Linked DNA regions of Homo sapiens. The protein of the gene in region 3 purifies or fractionates together with the protein of the main gene of each other region. This does not show direct contact. Each region holds a gene or a part of one and is shown on either strand. Other genes may lie near its edges.

Region 1 (3,652 bases), on a different chromosome or scaffold from region 3:
CCACTAGGTGGTGATAATTCGTTGTTAAGAGAGAATACTGTTATAATTTAGGCTTAACTTAGATCTAGGATGTATAGAACCTGACAAATGATATGAATAGATTTATCAGAATTTTGATAATATAAGCATATTATCAGAATTTTGAAGCAGAGAGAATCAAGTCTTTCTGGAACTACACTGGAGTAATTTACGTGGATGATCTAAATATCCATCATGACAGGAATGGTTGAGGGAATGATGGCCTATTAATAGAATTGAGTATTATGTAACCATTAAGTACTACATGCACACACACATAAAAAGCACTCAGTAGGCCGAGGCGGGTGGATCATGAGGTCAGGAGATCGAGACCATCCTGGCTAACAAGGTGAAACCCCGTCTCTACTACAAATACAAAAAATTAGCCGGGCGCGGTGGCGGGCGCCTGTAGTCCCAGCTACTCGGGAGGCTGAGGCAGGAGAATGGCGTGAACCCGGGAAGCGGAGCTTGCAGTGAGCCGAGATTGCGCCACTGCAGTCCGCAGTCCGGCCTGGGCGACAGAGCGAGACTCCGTCTCAAAAAAAAAAAAAAACAAAAAAAACAAAAGCACTCAGTAAGTATGTGTTCAATTAAAAATAATTATAAAATTTTGTAATTCTGTAGAAAGACTTTCAAATTAGTATTACATGAAAAAAATAAGATACATTGAACATGTAGAGTTAGTTTAACTGTAAAAATGAAATTTAAGAGAACATGTCAAAATTCTGTACAGTACAAAATATTGTAAAATTTTGTACAAGAAACTTTTGTACAAGAAACATTTTGTACAATGGGTGTATATTAATTTTGCAATAAGATTAAAAATAAAAATAAATGAAGGGATAGTTAGAATTCCCAAGATGAAGTCTAGCATCAAAATTTCCAGCCTGCCTTTTTCTGAACTTGTACACGTTTTCTCTATAGCCCAGCTGGGAGCTAAAACTTCAGAATGATAGCATTCTTCTACTTTCTTTGAACATATATGTATTTTAATTAAACATTTTATGTTTCTTCAACAACTAGTAGGACTTTAAAGGCTCTGGACTGTTGTTCTAACAGTTTTCCATAGAGGAAAATAAATATTTTGTTTATCCCACAAGTTTTGTATGAGAGGAGATATCCAAATAAATGTAATAGTCATAATTTCTGTATTCCCAAATCTGAAGAATAATTATAATAGTATACCAGTTAAATGGAAGAGGTGTTGAAATTTAGAATGGTAATGGACTTTATTGCATGTTTAAAGTTCTTTTCAGTTGATAGCACACTTTAAGTGGATTTTTTTAAGGATTTTACTTTCAGATTGATTATCTTAATGTTCCTAATATAGTCTTTTTATAGATTGTTTCTGTTTTATTTTATATAAAGAGTTCATAAAGCCAGGTTTATTATTTTTTAACATGTTTTATTCAGCTTGTTAATCTTAAGTGTATGTTGAAATGTTAACTCTTGACATTTTAAATACTTTGCCAGCAACCGTAAATACCCGTTATAACCATTACCTACAATGGATTTACTATTTTCGTATTTACTTATTGAACAGTAGATTTTATATCATTTTTTAGACTCTTAGGTGGAAAATTGAATTCAAATAACTAGTTCTTTGTGTTAAATTTTCTTCTGTTAGGAAAAAATACACAAAGTCCCTTTTCACAGTAGTGTCCTATGCTAAAGGTCATTGTATTGTCAAAGACGGCTAGTGAGGAGTTGCAGATTACCTCACAAAATCATAAATGGGAAAGGGACTTAGATTAAATCTTAAAATAATAATATTTCAATGAGTATATTTTTCTTCATTGTAACTTAAGAGAATTAAACATGAAGTTAAATGTCTGCAGGATGCATTTATGTGTATTCATAATGACATTTTATGTGCGGGTAAATGTTTTCTTTCTCTCTTTTTTTTTTTTTAAGTTGTTACCATCAAAAGTCTCTGAAACTACATAAAGTGATTACATTCCCTGGTCAACAAAAATGAAGTGTTTGTCACTTCATATGTAAAATTTTCTTGATAGTTATGCTTTTAAAATCTCTTTTTAATGTAAGTTTTTGCCTACTAATCTTTTATTTACATTTTATCTTTTAATGATCTTTATCTTAGCCTCAAAATTATCTATGAAATACTAATTTTATTTTTGCTTCATTTATAAATTTTGAAGCTTTTTTCAATCATTCGTACAGCTTAGATGGTCTAGAACTATGGTAGCCACTAGCTACATGTTGCTCTTTAGTTAAATAAAATATAGAATTGGTTCCTTGGTCACACTAACATATTTCAAATATTAATTAGTTACATTTGGCAGACACATAATTCAGGCTCTTGAATTTCTCAGAAAAAAATAATAAATTTGCTCCTGCAGCCTTGTTATCTATCGCGTGTGGATTTTCTTTAAATGGTGACCATATTTTAACTTTTTGTTTTTACCCATTTTACTTAATTTTGAATTATTTGCCACACAGCTGTGATTCTCAGACATCTGATTTATGGCATAAGAGCTTTTAAAAATTAGACATATGCAGTGAGATTTTGTTAGTGGGTCTGGGATTGGGTCTAAAATCTTTATTTTTAAGAGGTCAGATTAGGAATGATGGGCTTGGAGCACACTAATCATTCATTCCTAGATTTTGTAGGTTTTTTTAAGCTTTACTTTTATATCAAATTAAATCACCAAAAACCTACATTTTCTGATGATAAATTTGTCTCCTTGCAGAGATATTGTTACTGAGTTACAGTTACATTGTTCATTTGTTTAATAAGTATAAGCACTTTCTGTGTGCCAGGCACTGTTGTAAGCATAGAGGGATACATTGATGAATAAAACACAAAAATCCCAGCTCCCATCATTAAATTCTAGTGAAAGTTAAGTCTTTATGTCCCAGAATTTTATGAGAAGAATCAGCAACAGAAGTGGCAGTATGTAGAATGTCTGATTTTGAATTTTATGTTTAATAAAGATCCATTTAATAAATTCTATTAAGGAATTCAATGCTAAGAAAAATTTCTAGTATGACTTGTTATGATTCCTTCTGTTAAAGAATATTGCCTTGCTACAGAGAAACTGTTAAATGCCCAGTTGCACACGTAATTACTGCCCCCACCCTAACATCATGGTCTGTAAGTCTCTTTTTTTATTCTCTGTGTCTCACTCTTTGCTCAAATCCCATCTCTTCCTCTCTCACATTCTCTCCTATTTTAGAGATGTAGTTTTATTATTAACAGTGTGTTTGATTTTAAGCAACCTGAAATTCCTTTGTAAGTAAATGGGCTGTAAAGAACAGAGGGGAAATTGGAAGAGATGAAGGAAGTGAGTGTTTGGTAAGCTCTATTCTGTGAACTTTTAGGAAAGCTAGAATTGTGTTCTGAGAGATAGGGATTCTTAAACTGAAAGTAGATTTCTGTATTTACAGTAACTGTACATTTTAAAAGTTCTCGCAATTTTAGTTTTTATAACTGATTAAGTATTTGTATTTAAAAGGTTGGTGGAAAATCTAGAGATTAGTCCATCTATCTTGTTTTACTATAAATGAAATCCAGCATTTTAAATAATTTACACAAAGACATTCAGCTTGGGAGTATCACAGGCAGGACTAGAACTAGTTTCCTTAATGTTGTCTCTTTGATAAGCTTAAGAGA
Region 2 (3,652 bases), on a different chromosome or scaffold from region 3:
CGCCTCAGCCTCCCAAAGTGCTGAGATTACAGGTGTGAGCCACCGCGACCCACCCACAACCTTCTTTTGATCATTTTTCTTTTGAGTTGTTTTGGGGATCTACCTATTCCAGGTACTGCACTTTGATGGTTATATTTGTTGCAAATATATTATTCCTGCTTGTGTGTTGCCTTACATGAAAAATTGTAAAGTCACAGGCCTGCTTATAGCTATTAGAGTCTGAGCTCCTTGAAAGAGCAAGAGATGGATATCCTGATTTGCTCATTTTCTGAGAAGTGCCTTGACTGTCTTACTACTTAGAAAATGCTTGTTAACATTGATGAGAAGTCAATAAAATAAAAACTGTTGGCTGGGCGCTGTGGCTCACGCCTGTAATCCCAGCAGTTTGGGAGGCCGAGACAGGCGGATCACGAGGTCAGGAAATCGAGACCATCCTGGCTAACACGGTGAAACCCCGTCTCTACTAAAAATACAATTAGCCGGGCGTGGCGGCGAGCGCCTGTAATCCCAGCTACTCTGGAGGCTGAGGCAGGAGAATGGCGTGAACCTGGGAGGCGGAGCTTGCAGTGAGCCGAGATCGCGCCACTGCACTCCAGCCTGGGCGACAGAGCGAAACTCTGTCTCAAAAAAACAAACAAACAAAAACTGTCAGAGCGGCGATCAGTAAACATTGATAAGACTAATGGCAAGGTAAGTTACAAAGAAAATGCCTGTTAGAGCTGAATATGCTCACTTCCCTCCCAATCATGTTAAATCCATGGGTTAAAGAGGTAGGAATTTGTTGAGGCAGCCTCAGAGCTTCCTTTTCCTTTTTCCAAGCTATCCCAAGCAAGTCAATCACTTCCAGCGCATTGAAATCATCACCAGACACCTATTCCACTGAGTCTTAGTTTTAAGAGTCCAAAACCCTAGGACCAAGTTTGGAAATCCCCTGGTTTGGCATATTGGGCCCTGAAAGTTACACTTCGCTGAATTTAGCCCAAGAGGCACTTGCCTTGCTAGATGTGGTCAATAATAAAAGCAGGAAGAGAGCTTAAGGTTTAAATGTGCCTTTCTAGTTATTTTAGTTATTTCTAGTTATTCAGATGGTGCAAAAAAGTTGCAGATGCCGGCTGGGCGCGGTGGCTCACGCCTGTAATCCCAGCACTTTGGGAGGCCAAGGCAGGTGGGTCATGAGGTTAGGACATCGAGACCATCCTGGCTAACATGGTGTCTCTACTAAAACAAAAAATACAAAAAATTAGCCGGGCGTGGTGGCACGCGCCTGTAATCCCAGCTATTCGGAGGCTGAGGAAGGAGAATCGCTTGAACCCGGGAGGCAGAAGTTGCTGTAAGCCGAGATGGCGCCACTGCACTCCAGCCTGGGTGACAGAGCAAGACTCCATCTCCCCCGCCCCCACCCCCACCCTGCCAAAAAAGTTGCAGATGCCTTCTCTCCCAGCTCCACCCACTGTTCATGGTAGGGTATGAAGTAGCAGCGCACATTATCAGGAGCAACTGTGGGGGTAAGCGTCCTTTCTCTGGCAATTCGCTCTATGCCCTTGTACGCTGTTGTTTGTATTTCTCACTGTTTGTAAGTCTCACTGTCGCCCAGGCTGGAGTACAGTGGTGTGATCACGGCTCACTGCAACCTCCACCTCCCTGGCTCAAATGATCTTCCCACCTCAGCTTCCTAAGTAGCTGGGACTACAGGCACACACCACTACGCTCAGCTAATTTTTTTTTTTTTTTTTTTTTTGGTAGAAACGGGGTTTCTCCATGTTAGCCAGGCTGGTCTCAAACTCCTGGGCTCAAGCAAGCTGCCTGCCTCGGCTTCCCAAAGTGCTGGGATTACAGGTGTGAGCCACCACGCCCAGCCACTCTCTGTGTTTTTAAATTATTCCAGCTTCACCACTTAATGACTACACACTTGGGTAACTTGCTTCTCTCCTGTGCCTCAGTTTTCTCATCTGTAACATGGGGCTACTCATGGTATTGACCTCATAGGGTGTGTCTCAGTCTATTTTGTGCTGCCATACATAATACTTGGGACTAGGTAGTTAATAAAAAAGAGAAATTGATTTCTCACAGTTCTGGAAGCTGGGAAGTCGAAGATCAAGGTGCTGGCAGGTTTGGCTGTCTGGTGAGAGCTGCATTTGGAGGAATGCTGCGTCCTTACATAGACGGTGGGAGGTAGAAGGTGGAAGGGCAGGTGAGCCCCGTGCTGGGCGAAGCCTCTTTTATGAGGGCCTTAATCCCACTCATGAGGAAGGAGACCCCCTCGCCTAATCACCTATCACAGGCCCCATCTGTTAATCCTCTCACATTGGCAGCACCTGAATTTTGGAGGGGGACACGTTTAAAACATAGCAGGTTGTCCTGACAAAGGAAGAAAGTGCAGGCCGGGCGTGGTTGCTCACACCTATAATCCCAACATTGTAGGAGGCTGAGGCAGGCAAAATTGCCCCAGCCTGGGCAACACGGCTCCAAATTTGACCAGCCTGGGCAACATGGCAAATCCCTGTCTCTACAAAAAAAAAAAAAAAATTAGGTGTGGTGGTGCACACCTGTAGTATCAGCTACTCAGGAGGCTGAGGTGGGAGGATAGCTTGAGCCTGAGAGGTCAAGGCTGCAGTGACCTGAGATCATGCCACTGCATTCCAGCCTGGGCAACAGATCGAGACCCTGTCTCAGAAAGAGAAAAAGAAAAAAAAGGAATGCAAAGCACTTAGGGCAGTGCCTAGCACTAAGGATCCACTAAATACTGTTCTTGCAAATTGAAGCATGCTGCCTCTGACAACCTTGTTAATATAAAAGAGGCCCATTTCCCTTCTACCTGTACCTCTTTGCCATTTCTTATAAAGGAAGCTGAGCTGTTAATAGTTCAATGTGATTGGCCTGGCACGGTGGCTCACACCTGTAATCCTAGCTACTGGGGATGCTGAGGCAGGAGAATCGCTTGAACCTGAGAGGCGGAGGTTGCAGTGAGCCAAGTTCATGCCACTGCACTCCAGCCTGGGCAACAGAGTGAGACTGTCAAAAAAAAAAAAAAGTTTAATGTGATCACTGCACATTTTTCCCCCTCATACCAAGGTGCTGCAAGTCTACATACAAATATATGTCATTTCTTTTTTTCTTTTTTTTTTGTATTTTCTTTTTTCTTCCTTCCCTTCCCTCTCTCCCTTCCTCTCACTTCTTTCATTTTAAATAAAAATGGGTTCATATTCACTTGCTTTTTTATCAGTTAATAATATAGCATGGATATCTTTTTGAGTCACTACATATAGTTAATTCATTTTAATTTTTTTAATTTTTAAAATTTGTTTATTTGAGACAGGGTCTCCCTCTGTCACCCAGGCTGGAGTGCAGTGCGGCGATCACGGATCACTGCAGCCTCAACCTCCTGGGTTCAAGTGATCCTTCCATCTCTCAGCCTCCTGAGTAGTTGGGACTACAGGCATACACCACCATGCCCAGCTAATTTTTGTACGTTTTGTAGAGAAGGGATTTCGCTTTTGTCATGTTGCCCAGGCTGGTCTTGAACTCCTGGGCTCAAGCAATGTTCCCGCCTTGGCCTCCCAAAGTGCTGGAATTAGAAGCGTGAGCAACCGTACCTGGTCAACAGTCTCTAAAAATTTTTTTTTATGACAAGGTGTCACTATGCTGCCCATGC
Region 3 (4,127 bases):
GATGGATGAATTAAGGGATGACAGATGGATGGATGGATGAGTAACTGGATGGACAAGTGGATAAATGGATAGATGGTTGAATACCTGAATGGATTGAAGGAGGATGCATGGATGTAAGATAAGGCTAATCATCCTCCACTCTCTTTCTTTGCAAAACCATCCACCCATTTACTCAATAAACATTTATTCAGTTCAAACTTGGCACAAAGCACCATGTGAGGCCCAAGAGATACGTGGGTTAATAAAACAGAGCTCCTGCCCTCCTGAAAACTGCAAAGAAAGGGGCGTGGCTTCCTGAGTTCAAATCCCAACTCTGCCAGCGACTAGTTGTACATCAGTGATGTTTCCCTACTTTCTCTCAATTAAATAGGGATAATGTCAGTACCTATCACATTGGGAGGTCTTGCGGGGATTAAATGAGTTACCAAATGCCAAGTGTTTGGGACAGGGCCTGGCACCCAGCAAAGTCTCTTGTGAGTGCTGGCTGCTATTATCCTAATGGAGAAGATGGCATGAAAACCAGGAAATAGGATGCCCTTTGGGAAGCAATGCAACAGGAACTTACACAAAGAAAGGAAAGGAGGAAGCAATTAGTGGTGTCTCAAAGGAGTATGTCAAGAAAAACTTTTCAGAGGGAAACCTTTGAGCAGGGTCATGAAAACAGGAGTTCTCTAAGAGATTGTGGACTTGCCTGGGACCACCTGGCTATAAGCACAAAACCATCCGGTTCCTTTCTGTCACTTCTGGCTGGGTGAGGGGTCTCTGGCAAAGGGGCAGAAGGTGCGTGAGAGGTTGCGAATGGCCAGGACTGTCCTGGGGCCAGCCGGGGCACCTGGTGGCCAAGCTTAGAAACATGACAGGTCCTCTTGGGAGGGCTGACCGCAGGGAGCGTTGGGTTTCAGGCTGCTGGCGTCGGCTTCTGTGGTGCCCTTTCTGTCGGCTATGAGAGTCCAGACAGTGCCCAACCTCCTCCCCTTCTTTCCACACGCACAACCACCCCACCCCCTGTGGCCTGAGCTGTCCTGCCTCGCCACAATGGCACCTGCCCTAAAATAGCTTCCCATGTGAGGGCTAGAGAAAGGAAAAGATTAGACCCTCCCTGGATGAGAGAGAGAAAGTGAAGGAGGGCAGGGGAGGGGGACAGCGAGCCATTGAGCGATCTTTGTCAAGCATCCCAGAAGGTATAAAAACGCCCTTGGGACCAGGCAGCCTCAAACCCCAGCTGTTGGGGCCAGGACACCCAGTGAGCCCATACTTGCTCTTTTTGTCTTCTTCAGACTGCGCCATGGGGCTCAGCGACGGGGAATGGCAGTTGGTGCTGAACGTCTGGGGGAAGGTGGAGGCTGACATCCCAGGCCATGGGCAGGAAGTCCTCATCAGGTAAAAGGAAGAGATTCCATTGCCCCTGCCACCCACACCCTAAGATCAAGGGTGTTCAGCTGCAAGGTGGAAAGTTTGCACGTGGGGTAGGTCAGTTGGCTGCATTAGTTAAGGGTGTTAGAACGGTCACTTGCTTTTTCTTTGCTTTTAAGTGTCAGGGATTGGACTCAGGAGAGGGAAAGGAGCCATTTCAGGCTGATGTCAGCAGCTGGAGGAAGCATGAGAATCAAACCTAGGATGCTCAGAGTCCACCAGGAAGAATTTTAGAATTATAGACAGTCAGAGTTAACAAGGGTCCTGAGAGATTTTGTACAGCCACCTCTCTTACAGGATGAGGACAAAAAGGGACTGAGAAGGGGAGGACATTTCCAGAGTCACAGCTCATTAAATGCTCTTAAAGTGTCAAGGTTAAGACATGCTCTTCAAGGGGAGACAGATCTGGTTCTAGACTTGGCTCTGCCACTGAGCCACTGGGTGACCTTTGGGAAAGTACTCAACCTCTCGGAGCCTCAATTTCCTCTCCTGTACAGTGAGGGGATATCCTAATATCTATATCCTAGAGGAGATGTGAGAATTAAATAAAATAATGCATGCAAGAGGCCTGGCATGGTTCCTGGCATATACTGAGTCCTAGAAATGTTAGTAGCTATTACTGATGAAGCCCAGGCTAGGGACCTTTCAAAGCATTGCAATTAGAGAACAGAAGATAGAGGCTCATTAGTGACCTTCGATGTTGAGTATGTCTCTAGTTTGAGAGGTCTGAATGATGTGGTCTGCAAGTATATCCTGCCTTCTACCACAAGGGATTCCAGAATACACCAAAGAAAACAAAATTCTGAGGTTTGTAAATAGAGGGTGGCTGTGGTTTGTACATAGAAGCTCATCTCCTCGTTGCCTTCTATCCCAAAGGTGATACACTCTTCTCTTGGCCCCTTCCCTCACCATTCTGAGCTGGTTCCCTCAGAAGTCTAATAGGTTAAGAATCAACGTTTCTGCCAACGGGAGGAAGGAAGTGGGCGCCGGGGTTGCCACAAGTGAATGGATTGTCTTTGGCACTTTAATTTGCAGATTAATTTCTCCTTATTTGTGAGCCAGAGCCAATTTTCCTCTTCCACTCCGTCGTCCTTTGGGTCTCCCTTGGGCTTTACCCATTTCCAGCTTCCGTCTACCTCGGGAGCATGGCTGGTCCTGGAAGCTCCGTTATCTAAAATTTGAGCCGTTGGTGATCCGTGCTAGAAACACTTGAGGAAGAAGAGTTGAGTTTTCTGTTGACTGTAATGGCATCGTAGTGTGTTTATGTCTTTCTTCTCCTGTCCCTGTCATCTGGCTGCAACAGGCCCTGTTGGATTGCACAAAGTGCTCCCCCGACCAACACACACACACAAATTGACATCAACTCCTGGGCCACAGATATGCCATGTGACCTTGGACAAGTCTCTCCACCTCTGGGCCTTATTTCTCTGCTGGTTGAGCGAAGGGATTGTCTTCCATGGTCTCCGAGATCCCGTCCCACGCTCATGCCCTAGAATTCTCTGAGTCCTTGATGCACTTTTGCCTTTGGCGAGGAGGCAGGACAGTCAGGCGTGGAGGTAGGAGACCAGAGTTTGCAGAGCAGAGGTCTTTCCAAGGTGATTTGGGAGCTGCCAGACCTAAGGCAGTGACTTGTACGTCTTGAAAGAGACTCAGGGTGTTGCATCATCAGGGAGGATCACGGAGGTTTGCCGGGGGCCGGGAGCCAGGGATAAGACATAATGCCTAGGGTTGCTGGTCCCTGAAAGGTCCCAGAGGCCTGGTGCCCTGTCACGTCTTAGGTTGTGGGACATGCAGAGACTGTGCCAGCTGGTTCTGCCCTCTCAGTATTTGGGGTACAGGGAGGATGGCCTCCCTGGGGGCAGGGTGGAGGAGGCTCATGCCCAGGACTGCAAATGCCACCCGTGAGAGTTGGCATCTTGACTTTGTTCTAGATACTGACTCTGGATTTTCTAACTGACCTTGAAAGGTTATGTCTCCAATCTTCTGATTGTAAAAGAGGGCAAATTCCATGAAGCCCAGTCTGTAAAACACTGAGGCCTTCACTGCACGTACACAAACATAAAATTCTAGAACACAGAAGCTGGAAGGTCACTTGGAGATTCTGGCTCCAGGAGTGGGGCTTCGGAAGGGAGGGGGCTGCTGAGTGGGCTCCACACCCCTGTTTTTCCTTTCTTTACTCAAACCTTTTTTGTTTTATTTACTTTGGCTGTTTTGGGGAGCGGGGGGAACAAAGGATTTCAAGGTCATAAAATGTTTGAAAATCACCAGTGGTGGTCACTACTTCTCATTACAGGGAGGAACTGGGCCTGAGAGTCTCCACCGGTTAATGGCAGCCACAGGCAGGACCAAAAATTCCTGGGTGATGGTGATGATAATGATAATGATAATGATAATGGTAGAGATGATGAGGAGGAGAAAGACAGCAACCATTTATTCAGCACATACTGATTGCTGGGCTCTGTTTAAGTGTTTCACTCACTGAAGCCTGACAACAATCTTATGAGGTAGATATGATTATGATCACCACATTTAACAGAGAGGTTAAGTAACTTACGCCAAGTCACACAGCAAGTAAGAAAGGAGCTGGAATTCAAATTCAGGCAGCTTGGATCCAGAATCCTTGCTCCTTTTTTTTTTTTTTGAGATGGAGTCTTGCTGGGATTACAGGTGCATGCCACCATGCCTGGCTAATTTTTGTATTTTTAGTAGAGACT

What was found.
Region 1: the proteins of MB (region 3) and LYPLAL1 fractionate together in Homo sapiens (co-fractionation; one large-scale study listed by BioGRID). This does not show direct contact.
Region 2: the proteins of MB (region 3) and NQO1 fractionate together in Homo sapiens (co-fractionation; one large-scale study listed by BioGRID). This does not show direct contact.

What each region holds. Positions count from the first base shown.
Region 1 is NC_000001.11:219,204,808-219,208,459, forward strand, and holds part of LYPLAL1 (lysophospholipase-like protein 1), read left to right. Parts: intron 1-3,652.
Region 2 is NC_000016.10:69,719,918-69,723,569, reverse strand, and holds part of NQO1 (NAD(P)H dehydrogenase [quinone] 1), read left to right. Parts: intron 1-3,652. UniProt on the Homo sapiens protein: Flavin-containing quinone reductase that catalyzes two-electron reduction of quinones to hydroquinones using either NADH or NADPH as electron donors.
Region 3 is NC_000022.11:35,614,416-35,618,542, reverse strand, and holds the start of MB (myoglobin), read left to right. Parts: upstream 1-1,213; 5' UTR 1,214-1,285; coding exon 1,286-1,380; intron 1,381-4,127. UniProt on the Homo sapiens protein: Monomeric heme protein which primary function is to store oxygen and facilitate its diffusion within muscle tissues.